Linked DNA regions of Homo sapiens. The protein of the gene in region 1 interacts with the protein of each later gene in a biochemical or structural test. Each region holds a gene or a part of one and is shown on either strand. Other genes may lie near its edges.

The links.
Region 2: the proteins of DZIP3 (region 1) and GRIP1 form a complex in vitro, tested with the Homo sapiens proteins (one study listed by BioGRID).

The regions. Positions count from the first base shown.
Region 1 is NC_000003.12:108,584,881-108,592,723, forward strand, and holds the start of DZIP3 (E3 ubiquitin-protein ligase DZIP3), read left to right. Parts: upstream 1-4,841; 5' UTR 4,842-4,959; exon of another isoform or gene 4,960-5,216; intron 5,217-7,843. Other genes in the region: protein CIP2A, read right to left, coding at 185-332, 4,394-4,495. UniProt on the Homo sapiens protein: E3 Ubiquitin ligase proteins mediate ubiquitination and subsequent proteasomal degradation of target proteins.
Region 2 is NC_000012.12:66,389,077-66,396,100, reverse strand, and holds part of GRIP1 (glutamate receptor-interacting protein 1), read left to right. Parts: intron 1-1,748; coding exon 1,749-1,893; intron 1,894-3,284; coding exon 3,285-3,424; intron 3,425-3,598; coding exon 3,599-3,793; intron 3,794-7,024. UniProt on the Homo sapiens protein: May play a role as a localized scaffold for the assembly of a multiprotein signaling complex and as mediator of the trafficking of its binding partners at specific subcellular location in neurons.

The DNA.
Region 1 (7,843 bases):
CAGAAGGATCATTCTTTGATCGGTAGCTATGACTTCCTCAGTGTCAAAAGATTCACAATGCACACTAGACTGAGAAGTCTTTGAAGGTGAATCATTCTTTAAGAGATTCTATAACTAAGCCTGCACTTTAAAATATTGTTCATACATCTTCCAAAAACTAAAAAGGAGAAATTAAATGCATTACCTAGTTGAGACAGCAAACCGATAATACTTAAGATCAGTGAAGCACTTATGTTGGGGTCTTCAAGTAGCTCTACAAGGCAACTCAAGCATTCACTTGTTAATATCTGATTTGATGTAAATAGTCGTGTGAGTTTCTGTCCAGAAATTACCTATAAAATAGTAATCAAAATGTGTTGGTTAAGCGATGGCAATTTTCATCTCTTCTCCATTTCAAATAAAAAACTCAGTTCCCTCAAAGTGCCACTGCTACCTTCCCAATTTAAAAAATTCACACATGCTGTGAAAAATTCACCCCTGCCTAGAGTACCCATCAATTACCTAATCCCTCCCTCCCTAGCTAAAGTAATCATTTGGATCTCAGTTTAAAATAATTTCCACCAGGAAGCTTTTCTTAGTTTCTTATACCATCTCAGTTCGGTCGGCCTATTATGCTATCCTATAGTACATTATATTTCTATTTCCTAAGTTAGCAAACTTTTGAGTTCCTAGCAATATTTCTCCTTCACACTACATTGAACATGCGATGAAGGCATAGCCTACAAATCTGCACTCTAGTACCAATATATTTACTATGCAAATAAATTCTAATACATTCTACTTACTTTGAGGGAGGAGAATGAAAAATGAAGCCCAGAGGGTAGTTATGGGATTATTCCTTCTGCTTCTTCCCAAAGACAATAGGTGAGCTCAGAAGTTAAGGGATTAAAGAAGGAAGTGAAAAGTGAATCTTTTTTTAAGTAGCCAGGCAAGGCATTGAAAAATTTTATTTCTGATTATTCCATTGTTTTTTTTACTTTCTTGTAATCTATAAGCCACATACACGCATGCACAGACACATACATACACACACACACACACAGAGTGAAAGAGAGAAGAGAGGAGGTAAAGCTGGAACTAAAGGCCAAAAGCAGTTGTCTCAAAGCATGAATTTTCAACATACTTTATGGATGTATTTATTACAAAGCATATCTTTTCTACAAAGATGGCAAAACCATTAGTTACCTTAGAATAAGACTAACTCTGTCCTGAATACTTATTTTAATAAGATCAAGCCTAAGCAGGCTGCTTTAGCATCCCTCTAATCTTTCCTTTCTGTATCCTCCCTTTATTCTCTCACCCACATCAGTTTTTCTTCTAAGGCTTTGCTGATAAGAGTTTCACATTATCTGTTCCCAAGGAGTGTTTTAACATTACTAAAGTAAAAGTCTATACAAGAAAAAATAAGTCCAAATATGAAAGTGCAGATGCCAGTAACAGATATTCTGGGGTAGGAAATACTGTGGGCATTACCCTGTTGCTTATTTATAAATCTAGCTCTCCAGAATAAGACACTTGCTGTTTTAAAAATGATTCTCTATAGGATTGGTCCTGTATCTCATTAACATAAATTGTCTAACATGTAATAATTATATGCACTAGGTAAAATAAAAATTGCTTTACAAGTTTTCCCTTTACTTATACTGAATCTCTTAAAACAAAGATAATTTATTTTAATAATAACTAATACTTATACAGCACTTACTCTGGCCTAGGCATCGATCTAGGCACTTTACATATGTGAACTCTTTTCATCTTCATAATAACTCTATAAGGTAGGTACCACTATTTTGTTTTGCAGATGAGTAAACTGAGGTACACACTGATAGTAAAGAAGCACAACTGGAATTCATATCTAGGCAGCTTGGTTCCTGAATTCATGCTTTTAATCACTACACAAAATTAGTGTTATGAAACATCATCATTAAAAATCAGATTAGCTCAGCTTTGCCAGTCATCAAACATTCAAAGCCTACACTCTGCATGGGGCTATAAAAGTGTGGGAGAAGTACAGAAGAATGAATAATCTCCTTTCACATGATACCCATCTCTCTTTGCATACTCAGATCTCGCTCTCATGAAGTCTGTACAAAGACATTCACCATTAAAAATACAAATACTGTCAACCAAAATGGTTAAAATTAAGAAATATGAAAACATCAAGGGTTGGTGTGGATAAGTGATGGTAAATTTCACATATTGCTAGTGGGAAGATAAAATGGCATATTTCAGAAAATTGTTTGGCAGTTTCAACTAAAACGGAACATATAGGCATATGTTCCAATGCTCTAACAATTCTACTCCTAAGTATATAAATGTGTGCATATATCCACAAAAAATGTATGTCTACAACAGCTTTATTCTTAATTCCACCCAGAAATGTAAACAACCCAAATGCCTATCAACAGGAAAGTGTATGTAAACTGTGGTACACTTATACAATAGAATTCTACACATCAATAATAAAAAAAATGAAGTAGCGGTACATGTGCAACATGAATTTCACAGATTTTATTGAGTGGAAAAGGCCAGACACAAGAGTACATATTGTATGAGTCTACTTACCCAAACCTTATGTGAAGAGGCAATGAAGAAACCCTATGGGGCTAGAAATGTTCTGTATCATGATACAGGTGGTAGCTACTCTACCTATATGTTAGCTACCAATATGGTAGCTATGGTACCTATATATTAAAAACTATCAAACTCTTCACTTAAGATTAATGCACTTTATGCTCTGTATGTATTTTATCTCTTAATTACAAAAAGTCCTTTTTAGTAGTAACCTGAAGCCAGTGCTCTTCATACCTTTGCAACAACGGTAGAAGAGTTTTATGTAAACCCCTTGAAAGTTTAGGAATACAGTAAAGACCCCATCCCATATTTTGTTTAAGTCTCTCTTTTTTTTTGTTTTGTTTTTGAGACGGAGTCTCACTCTGTCACCCATGTTGGAGTGCAGTGGAGCGATCTCTACTTATGCAACCTCAGCCTCCCGAGTTCAAGCGATTCTCCAGCCTCAGCCTCCCGAGTAGCTGGGACAACAGAGAGACGCCACGCCCAGGTAATTTTTGTATTTTTAGTAGAGACGGGGTTTCGCATGTTGGTCAGGCTGGTCTCAAACTCCCGACCTCAGGTGATCCGCTCGCCTCGGCCTCCCAAAGTGCTGGGATTACAGGTGTAAGCCCCTGTGCCTTAAATCTCTTTCAGTGCACAACCTTCCTGTTTATTCAAAGAAAGGTAATGCTTCAGAATAGCATACAAAATGCTTAACTCCCGATTTTTAAATTAAACGGACTGCCCTGCTTATTCTGCGGCTTCTGGAGCCTATGCTAATTCAGAAGCAAAGCCTTAAGCATTTAACAGCTAACACCTTAATTATTAGGTTTGCAGGCACTTCTTAAAATAAAGAATGAAAAAGAGAAAACAAATGTACTTAGGAGATGGGCACTTGAAGTAGGGAAAAGAGGAGCACCAGTGAAGCTCAAGATAAGACAGACACATTTAATACAACAGCAGCTTCACTAACAGCTGCTGTTGCTCTACTACTGGAAATCATTTTTTTCCTGTAATATTTTACAAATTTTTGGCACATTAGTCTTTTATCATAGGGTTAATATAATACAATATATTTTAAAATTATGTTCAATTCTACCTTAACAGAGGAAAGCTGTGACACAGAGAGTTAAAATAAGCCTTAATTGAGCTTTAAAAAAATTAAACTGAGGTCAATGTTAGTTTGAATTCCGTAAATGCAAAACAAATGAAAGCAGAAGATTAAGATCCTAAAACAAACGGAATCGTCTGGACACATATCACTAGAATAGAAAAAAAGGCAATTCAGCATTCTAAGATTAAAAAACTGTAAGCAATGTATTTTGGTAAAGAAAAAGGATTACGCTTACTAGGAAGGGGAAGTGCTTCTTAATGTTGAAATAATGTTTTTCAAGTTTGAGTTCAACCCGAGTTCAAGTAAGAGCAGTAAGCAACAAATTCAATTATAGATTACCGAAGGGCAAAACCAAGTTTTAATCATGACTTTCCGTCACTGAGAATAGTTGTGTATTGAGGGCTTGGTTTCGTAGAAAAACCAAAACTAGAAGCAAAGGAAAAGATAAAGTTCCGAGCTTTTTCCGTTACCTACTCGAAACAACCTGAACTTCCCAACCTTTTGCCCCACTCCCGCTTTTCCTAGAGCCTTCAGTGAGCGCTCTTGCCTCTCGCTGCGGCCAGCGGAACCCCGACACTCACTAGCCTTTACCAGTACGAAAAGACAACAGAGGGATCGAAGGACTGTCCTTTCTTTCCCAGGCTGGGGCCGCCACTCCTCGGCCTCACTGTGAAATAAGAATTGCTAGGGGAAGCCCCATCTGTCCTCTACCCCAGAGCCTCTCACCTCCAAGTGCCGCAAAAGCTGAGTGGCGTTCGCCTCTGACTTCACGGCTTTGTACTGACTGACAGTCAGGAGCAAGGACTTCAAGCAGGCAGTGGAGTCCATTGCACCGGCCGCGGCCCGGCTTAGGGACCACCACCGCCCAGCGTGCGCCGGCCTTTAGCTTTCGCCGCGCTTTTTTTGATTTTCGGCCCCACCCCCTCGCTCTCAGAAGCTTCCGGATCCGGTCGGGCTCCGGAAGTCCCTAGGCACCCTAGGGGACCGTTCTCGGTGACGGCCGGGGTGGGCCAGGGGTCGAGGTGATTTGTGGGTCCAGGACGGGGGTTGGGAGCTGCCCCCGCTAACCCACCCTCGTCTGAGAGGCCGCGAGGTTTCGGCCTGAGATCCCGTGAAGGCGAGAAATCTCGCGATTTCTCGGGAGAGGAATCGGTTAGGAGAAGGGGGATTCCTCACTCAGCTGTGCGCTCTGATTTCGTGCGCTTCCTCGTCCTTCATGTTGGATGGCCAGTTTTTCGTTTGTGCGTCATCCTCTACCTGAGAAATGGTCGCTTGCCCCTAGTCTAGACACGGTGAGGAGCTCTGAGGAGAAGAATCTTGGGCCCTAGATTTTGAGGCGGCCTGGGAGGGGCCTCGTTTTTAAATCTCTCCTACACCCGCCCCTTCTGCCCGGGGATGGTAGTTTCTCAGAGTCAACCTATTGGCATTATGTGGCAAATTAGTCATGCCCTGACCAAAGTATTTGTCACATTTATTCGAGAAGACTACCTCCTGCTGACCCTGGGCCAGGTATTGCTCCGGAGGGTGTTACTCGTTAGCGTCAGTTTTTGTAAGTGAAGGTGTCTGTTTCTCTCTGGCATGATTGATTGTTTTATAATTCTCGATGTCTACGAAAATGGCACTATTATTTGCGTTTTTTAAATCGGAGATAGCTTAATATTATTGCATGTGTATGTAATGAAGCGAGTCAGTTACTGGTTTTGGAGCTTTTTGCTTAATATTTCCTAACGTCGAATAAAGCTTTAAAAACCAGGATGTAGAAATTGTAAGAATAGGGTACATTTCCATTTAATTAAATCGTTTATCAGAAATCATGTTTTTTCACTTCAAAAGAATTTTTTTGAATTACTAGATTTTTGAAGACAGGTTTGGTGTTTTGGTTTTGTTTTTTATAAAAGTTTAAATCTGAAAGATAAAAATGATTTAACCAGTTGGGACATTCATGTAAAAATCTTTGGGTAGCTTGTGTGTTCATTTATGCTTTCATTCATTCCGTAAACAATTATAGAGCGTGTAACATGGGTTAGAAACTGCCAGTCAGGGAACAGAGATGAAGTAGTATCCCCTGCTGCGAGGGAACTGTCTAGTAAGGGAAACATACAAAATAGTACTTTTGAAATTCACCACATAAATGAGAGGCACCATGCAGTAACATGCAGCAGTGGTAAAGAGTAGAGAGCCAGGTTGCTTACAGATTCTAGCTCCACCTTTGACGATGTGACTCTAGGCAAGTTCTCACTGCTGCAGAATCTTCATTAGGTAAAATCTGGCCAAGGGAGATACCTGGTTCATAGGACTGTTCATTCAATAAGTAGTTCATTGAGAATCTACAATGTGCTAAGCACTTTTCTAGACACAATAGACTCAGTGAAAAAAACAAAAATACTACTGGCATGCAACTTACATTTTGGTAGGGAACCAAATAATAAACACAATAAATAAGTAAGGAAAATGATATAAAGAGAAAAATAGACGTTATTACTCTAGAATAATGTTGGTAATTGATAAGGGAAATGGGAAGGTGACCTCATTAAGAAAGCAACATTTGGGGAAATGCTTCAAGGAGTTGAGAAAGGGAGCCATATTCTATGGGAAAAGGTTTTTAGATAGAGGAAATGGCAAAGAAAGACCCTAAAGTGGGATACTGTATGCCAGAAACAAGGATGCCATGTGGCTAGTGTAGAAAGAACGAGGAGGAGAGGAGTAGAGATGAGGTCCTATACGGTCTTGGAGATGGTTAAAAAATGAATTAATGTAAAGTGTCAGCTGTCATCTGGCATAATTAAGTTCTCAGTGTTACAGTCAGTGCCTCATTGGCAAATGAAGTGATCAGAGTTTGATAGTGTTGGACTTTTCATCTGTGATGATGTGTCAGCATCGTCCCCATTCAGAGGCCCAGGGTAATGCGCAAAGCTGCGTGCTATCAGTGCCATCTTTGTTGGATTTTGACTTAAGCAGTCATACAAATTTTGTATTCTCTTCTGTAATTAATATCAAATGTCTTTCTCAAAAAATCTTCACCAAAATTGATGTTGTAAGTTTAGTAAGAGGGATCGTTTCTAGCTGTGATAAGTCTTGACATTTTTAATCAGAGATACTTGCATATCCTAATTTGAGAAACACCAATCCATACTTTTAGGCCTCAAAAAGGGAAGAAAAGGAGCAGGAGGCCAGGAGCAGTGGCTCACGCTTTTAATTTCCAGTTTTTTGGGAGACTAAGGCAGGAGGACCTTGAACCCAGGAGTTGGAGCCAGCCTAGGCAACATAGTGAAACGCCATCTCTACAAAAAATGAAAAAATTAGCCGGGCATGGGTGTGCTCACTTGTAGTCCTAGCTACTCTGGAGGCTGAGTTGGGGGGATCACTTGAGGCTGCAGTGAGTGTGATTGTGCCACTGCACTGTAGCCTGGGTGGCAGAGTGAGACCCTGTCAAAAAAAAAAAAAAAAAAAGAGATGAGTCTGGGTCCCAATGACCAAAGGCCTTATTAGCCTTAAACTTGGACTCCATCTTGAAGTCCGTGGCAATCTCTGGTTTTAAACTGGCACCTGGTCTAGTCAGGTTTGTTTTTAGATTGATTACTCTGGTAGCTGAATGAACTATGATTTTGGGGAGGATAAGACTGGAAAGAGGGACACTAATTTTCTGGAACCTTCTAAAGGATAACCAGGATAATTGAGGTGGAGATACAAAATAGGTGACAAATTCGAGAAGTATATATGAAGTAAAATAGGTAGGATTTGGTGACTGATAGTGGATGTGAGGCATGAAGAGAGGGATGAGTCTAGCAGATACTAAGTTTTTAGGTTGGATGAATGAGAAGATACAGATACTGCTGAGTTAGTTAATAGAAAGTATTAAGGGTGTGCCAGGCGTAGTGGCTCATGCCTTTTATTCCAGCACTTTGGGAGGCTGAGGCAGGAGGATCTCTTGAACCCAGGAGTTCAAGACCAGCTTGGGCAATATGGTGAAACCCCACCTCTACTAAAAATACAGAAAATTAGATGGGTGTGGGTGGTGCATGCCTGTAGTCCCAGCTACTCAGGAGGCTGTCATGGGAGGAACACCTGAACCTGGGAAGTCAAGGCTGCAGTAAGCCATGTTTGCCCCACTGCACTCCAGCCTGGGCAATGTGGGCAACAGGAGGGAGACCCTGTCTCAAAAAAAAAAAAAAAAAA
Region 2 (7,024 bases), on another chromosome or scaffold:
ATCAAATGACTCATTCAGAATTTCATCCAGGATATTGTTGATGATGAGGGCTGCAAAGTACATGTAATCTATCCAATAGTACTCTGTTCATTTAGGTCAAAGCCAGCTCTGAAAGGTGACAAAATATCGTACTGTAGGAAAATTTAGACTTTTGACCTCTGCTGATTATTTGGTTACCCTCTATCTTGATGTTTCTCTCTGGAGCCCTTAGCAGATCATCACCAGCCTATTGGCCACAACTTCAGCATCAGCCCAGAAGAAACTTGTGAACCAGCAAACAGAGCTGTTTTAGGCTTGATATGGGAGCTTCTCAGCTGCTAATGTAAATTTGAGCCCAATGTTGAAGATTTTGTGCCCTAAAATGTTGACTTAAGCATTGCAGTGTGTGGTGGATGGTCTTTAGTTCTGAATGTGTGGAGTAAATACGTTGAGTAGAGCACTCAGAAAGTGGAGGTAATGGCTGCATTCAAAACTCCCAATCTATGGCCAGAAGTGAAGTAAGTGCTGGCGAGAGAGGACACATTGCTTCCCAAATGACTTGATAGACCTTTCATTTTATATTCATCATAATTCTTCACTGCAAACACAAATAATTGAATTGTTAACTCAAGCTTTGGTTTTCCTCCTTATTTTAGGATTTCATATCGTAAACGAACAGCTGCTCACTGCAAAAATGTGGCCATGTTAATGCTTCACTAGGATGTAGTCTGACTGTAAAAGCTGACTATTTTGCTAAAGTAGCCACTGAACCATTTCATTTTATCCTTAGTTGCAGAAATGAAACAGTTCCTTAACCATTCACAGCTCCCAGGCCCAAGGAATAAAACAAGAAGTGCCCAAGAACTTTAAGCATGTCAGAAGCAAATAAAACCTTTGAATTCTGAGACTTCTTATTTGCAACTCTGACACCATCACAATACCCATCACGTTGAAGGCGGCCCATGATATCTTTCTGGCCAGTGCTTTAGGCAGAGCACATTCACAAGTGTCTTCAACTATAATAATGTTGAATAGCCAAAATTAGTTTATGACAGTGTGGCAGGCTGGTCTATGCTGTTGAAACATAGCTTACAACAGCTGTTACTCCATTGAAAGAGGAGAGATGATCATTCAAACCTCCACTTTAATATCCGTAATTCACTGATAGGACTCACATTAGAAGACAGTCAGTGGAATGATATCTAAGAGATTCTAGATTTCTTGCTGTTGTCTTCAAGTTTACTTATCTAAGTTCCACTTAACCATATATATGTTATTTGTTCCAACCCTTCGCAAAATCCACTTTTCTATATCAAAAGTTAGCATGCATGTAAAGCTTAAAACGGAAACAGCGTGACCCAATGTCTGTCTTCTTTGTTACTGAGTGACTCTCTCCTCTCATATTATAATGCCTCCTCAGCCATATGTTTATTTCACAGATATTTACTGCATACTTACTAAATGCTAGGTAAGCACTGTCCTAGACATGGACACAGTTGAAAGGTCCTGCAGCCCCAGCTGGGCGGATCTCACACATTTAAAACATAAGTCATTAGGCAGTGTTCCTCTCCCCTGGCACTGACAATGATTATATCCCTGTATTTGAATGTAAGATCCTACTAAGGAAATGCTACTTCCCAAAATAATTATTTTCTGTGACATGATACTTTGACGAGGATGTTTTGAATTCTTTTATGTATGAATCTATGCATCTTACTCTTTTGCTTTTTCCAAAGAAATCAATTATGATTCCTTGGCATTTATTACAGATGAGCAAGAAAGTTCCGGAGCAATTATTTACACCGTGGAGCTTAAACGCTACGGGGGGCCCCTTGGCATCACAATTTCAGGAACTGAAGAGCCGTTTGATCCTATAATCATTTCAAGCCTCACTAAAGGGGGATTAGCTGAAAGGTAAAATTTGAAGTAACTGTTATAATTACCTGTGTCTGAGACGGGCTTCCTTCCTCACAACCACATAAAAACATGCTCCTCTCTCTGTGGTTATCTGTTGGCTTTTAAAAATCTGCACAAAGGATTGATCTTAGAGCCTGAGAACTCTCAGGCAGAGTTCCGACTTGACTCTGAGGGGCATCTTACAGGCAGTAAAAGACGTCTTGGGCTTAGCATTGATACTACTCTCTGAAATGTATAAGCTGACCACAATTGACTGAAGGCGGATTTGTATTGTGTCCATTTTGAGAGGAGGAAACTAAAGTTCAGGGAGGTTGAACAGCTTGTCCAATTTCATTCAGCAAACACTTGCTGAGCCTCTGTTACCTGACAGGTGCCACACTTAGCTGCTGTGTTTTCAGAAAAGGATGATACAGACATCATCTTCAAGGATTATGGGAAACAAAGTGTATAACCCATTTTAATAATGTCTTAAAAGCTGGAATGTCCATTTTTTCCTTTGGCAATGATGTACACACACACCCACTCCCCACCCTCCGCTAAACTGCATTTCTTTCTGAGATGTGTTGTTGGACATATAACAAACCCTATAAGCAAATCTGCCCTCCAGTAACCTAGCTCAGGAATACACAAATGCATTGTTCCTGCTAACAGTTGAAAACAGTGGCTAGCAAAATAGAGACACAGCATTGCAAAATGTTGGAGCTGCAGTGTACCTTAGAAATTAGCTCATACAGGCCAGGTGCGGTGGCTCACACCTGTAATCCCAGAACTTTGGGAGGCCGAGGTAGATGGATCACGAGGTCAGTTCAAGACCAGCCTGGCCAATGGGGAAACCTCATCTCTACTAAAAATAGAAAAATTAGCTGGGGATGGTGGTGCTTGCCTGTAATCCCAGCTACTTGGGAGGCTGAGGCTGGAGAATTGCTTGAACCCGGGATGCGGAGGTTGCAGTGAGCCAAGATCGTGCCACTGGACTCCAGCCTGGGTGACACAGTGAGGCTCTGTCTCAAAAAAAAAAAAAAAAAAAAAAAAAAATCTGTAGAAAGAAAGGATGCTCCATGCTATCCACTACATTTGTCATTCAACATTGTTCATTTTCTTGGGATTTTTAGGGTGCTTAACCAATGACTCAGCTTTCTTGGAATTAAAAAACACAGTTCATTTTAATAACTAATTAAAACAATTTTTAAAATTTTATTGGAAACTAAAAAGTAATCCACAACAGATGCAGTTATCTTATAACATTGCCCAGGAGAAAGCAAGAAGGGACTTCTGGAGATCCTTACCAAGTCTTTATTATGATGAATGTATAAGGTATGTCAGGGAATTTATATTCAGTACCATACAGGGATTATTTCTACCTCTCCTATTACTATTTGGCTTTTCAGAACTGGCGCAATCCACATAGGAGACCGAATCCTAGCCATCAATAGCAGCAGCTTGAAAGGGAAGCCTCTGAGTGAAGCCATCCATTTGTTACAGATGGCAGGAGAGACTGTCACCTTGAAAATTAAGAAACAGACAGATGGTGAGTAGTGAATTGAAAGCCACAATTAAGGATTTCCAGTGCATTTTCTTCCTTGAAAGAATGTGCTAGTGTCTGTGTGTAATTCTAGGGAAACAAATCTCTAGCCACGGAGTATCTTGGTATATTTTTATTTAAATTTACTCTGATACTTAAACTCCTTTCCTGTCTATAAAGCCCAGTCAGCATCGAGCCCCAAGAAGTTCCCTATTTCTAGCCATTTGAGTGACCTGGGGGATGTGGAGGAGGACTCCTCACCAGCACAGAAGCCAGGCAAGCTCTCCGACATGTACCCCTCCACGGTGCCCAGTGTGGACAGTGCTGTGGATTCATGGGATGGGTCTGCAATAGACACCAGCTATGGAACTCAAGGTATGTCTTTACTTTGTCCCCCAGAGGACTTGTCATTGTTGAAGCCCATGCTTCTCCAAGATTCATCCTCTGCTCCATGAGGAGAATATCTTTCTTTAACTTGTGTCTGCTTTGGTGCAGCCATAATCATATTGAACACATTGAATACTTACACTCTGCTGGCCATGCATTTTCTTCTAGTGCTTATAAGGCATGAACCTTTACCAAACACTAACAGGCCTCCATTAGGTCTACTGATGGCCAAGTATCCCATCCAGGGCTTGTCCTTCAAGCTTAGATTAATGTGAGGCAAACCATACAATAAAGTGGCTCGTTCAATACAGGCCCCATTGCCTTATTTTTCAGCAAGCTTTCCACAAAGATGGATTGGGGAGTTTGGAAGAGGTGCATAAGAGATTAGCCAATGATTTGTGACTCTATTTATTCCTGCACACTCCTGACTTTTTTTTTTCTTTTAGAGACTGGGTCTCACTCTGTCACCCCAGCTAGAATACCCTGGCACCATCATAGTTCATTATAGTCTCAAACTCCTGGACTCAAGGGATCTTGCTGCCTCAGTCTCCTCAGTAGCTGAGACTATGTGCACACACCACCACACCCAGCTGATTTTTAAATTTTTGTAGATACGGGGTCTTGTCATGTTCTCCAGGCTGGTATCAAACTTCTGGCCTCCAGCAATCCTCCCATCTTGGCCTCCCAAAGTGCTAGGATAATAGGCATGAGCCACCATGCCCTTTCCCTGAATGTTTATAATTAGAGCACTATAATCACAATATAGGAAAGTATAGAGTAGATTTTTCTTCATAGGTGTCATCGTCATGTGAAGAAATACTATCTACATTAAAAAGCCTCACTCATGGAATATAAACACATAAAAGGTGTCAGACTGAATACAGAGCATAAACTAATAGCTTCTTTTAAAAAATATTTTCTTCCCAGTGATCCGTAGCATCAACAAGAGAAGTATGTCAAAACTTCTTGGTATTTCTCCTCATCTGAGCCTTACCTTCTCTCATGTTCTATGTAAATTCCAGCCTCTGAATCCCTTGTTTGCTCTGGGTTTCAGTCAGTCAAATAATAAAACACATAAACAGTTTAGAGAACACATTGGTGTGAGGGCTGCTTTGTCACTGAGTTAACTGTACTTTTTAGGAGTGTCTGTATCCAGTTTGCTCTCTCCTGGTTTTCCTAGTTTCCTTCTCTCAGCCTGCCTATGTTGTGTCACTCTCTGTTAAGTCCTCTGGTGAACAAAAAACAAAAATGGAAGGGAGAAAAAACTGGAAAAAAAAATGAAAGGAGATGATATTTCAAAGTTGTCAAGTTGTTACTTTCATTAGAGATGATACTGGAGTTAGGTGGGGAAAATACTTTGAACACCTAAGTAGAATTGGGGCTTTATCTGGCAATTAATTTTTCCAAGTCATAATACCTTGTGACAAGTTCACCTATGCCACCAAATAACAGACCTTCTGATTGCCTGAGAATTGATGGGCCACCAGAAGACACTGAGTAAAGGACAGAAGTCACATTCTATCAGAGTAGACTCAGGTTTATTTATCAATTTATTGTGTATTGGTTATTTATTTGTGTATTTTTTGTGTATTGCTTATTAATGTAGAGATATTTTTGTTACCAGAGATTTTTGTGAGGGTGCTATTGATATTAATTAGTTCTTCCCTGTAAGGTGATCTGTAAGACCTTAGCTACTCCATCCCTTGAAACCACAGACACAGGACCATGAGAAGCAAACTGAATATAGGACCTGCCCCTCACTAGTAAAAGATGAAAAACCATTTACTATTTGTGAAGCATTTTGAAATTTTGAATCATAGTCATAATATTACATTTTGCATTTATAATTTAGACATTTTTATGAGGTTGAAGGGAACTGAGGGATAAGTAGAGACAATGGCAATCAGGATAGAATCGAAGTACTCCAAGGTAATGAAAAAATAGTAATAACCCTTTATATATATAGAACACTCTAGAGTTTACAAAGCACTTTCACATAACTAATCCCCATTAATTCTTGTGACGAACATGGGAGCTGAAGGCAGGATTTCAGGTTTGGAAAGGGTTTAGGAGTCAGCTAGTCTGATGTCCAGTGCAGCCCTTGGTGCCAGGTCCTGCCTCACTGCACGCCAAGACACGCTGCATGGACTTGAATGCCCAAGGTGACAGGTTGTTCCTTGTGCTGAGGCAGCCCCCCATCTCCACGTAGCTCTGATGACTCTAAAGCTCTCACTTGTATTGAGCTGCAGTATGCCTAATAGTCCCGGCTATACCCTCAAGGTCATTCTGCACTAGACTAAAGCCTCTTCTCCTGACAGCCCCTTAGATACTCGAAGACAGCTATTGGGTCTCTGTTGAGGCTTTCCTTCTCCAAGCAAAATAGCCCCAGTTCCTTTAACTGTGTCTTCTATAATTTACTGACGAGTATCTGTATCGTCCTGTGGACCTCCCTTACGAATGTGCTTCAGTTTACCTGTGTACCCGTTAAAGTGTAACATTCAGAAAGGAAAATCACACAACAGCCCGACAGCCCGGAGCAAAGCAAGCTGGTCACTGGCATCATTGAAGACAGGAGAACTGATCAATGACACCTACCTCAACATAAGAATTTTAGTGGTCATGGCACATCTGTCACTCATTTTGCGCTTACAGTTTACCGAGATCTCAAAGTCTTGTGAATGTGTTTTTTTTTCTTTACCCGTGATATTCAGTTAAACTGCATCTCTCCAGATTGTGCTTGTGAGGTTGACTTTTTAAAAGCAAGGCACAGCTGGGTGCAGTGGCTCAGGCCTATATTCCCAGCACTTTGGGAGGCTGAGGTGGGCAAATCACCTGAGGTCAGGAGTTCAAGACCAGCCTGAGCAACGTGGCGAAACCCCATCTCTACTAAAAATACAAAAACTAGCCAGGCGTGGTGGCACACACCTGTAATCCCAGCTACTCGGGAGGCTGAGGCAGGAGAATCGCTTGAACCAGGAGGCGGAGATTGCAGTGAGCCAAGATCATGCCACTGCACTCCAGCCTGGGCAATAGAACAAGACTACGTCTCAAAAAAAATTAAAACAAAAATAAAAGCAAGGCATAGAACCACACTTTTATTTTTCCTATTCAATATTATGTTGTGAGATACAGCTTATCTCTCCAACCTGTCCCTCCAGCCTCTCAGCAGGCTCTCTGCCTTGTTCCAGGAAGCCCCTGCACATTCTCTCTGTTCCCTTT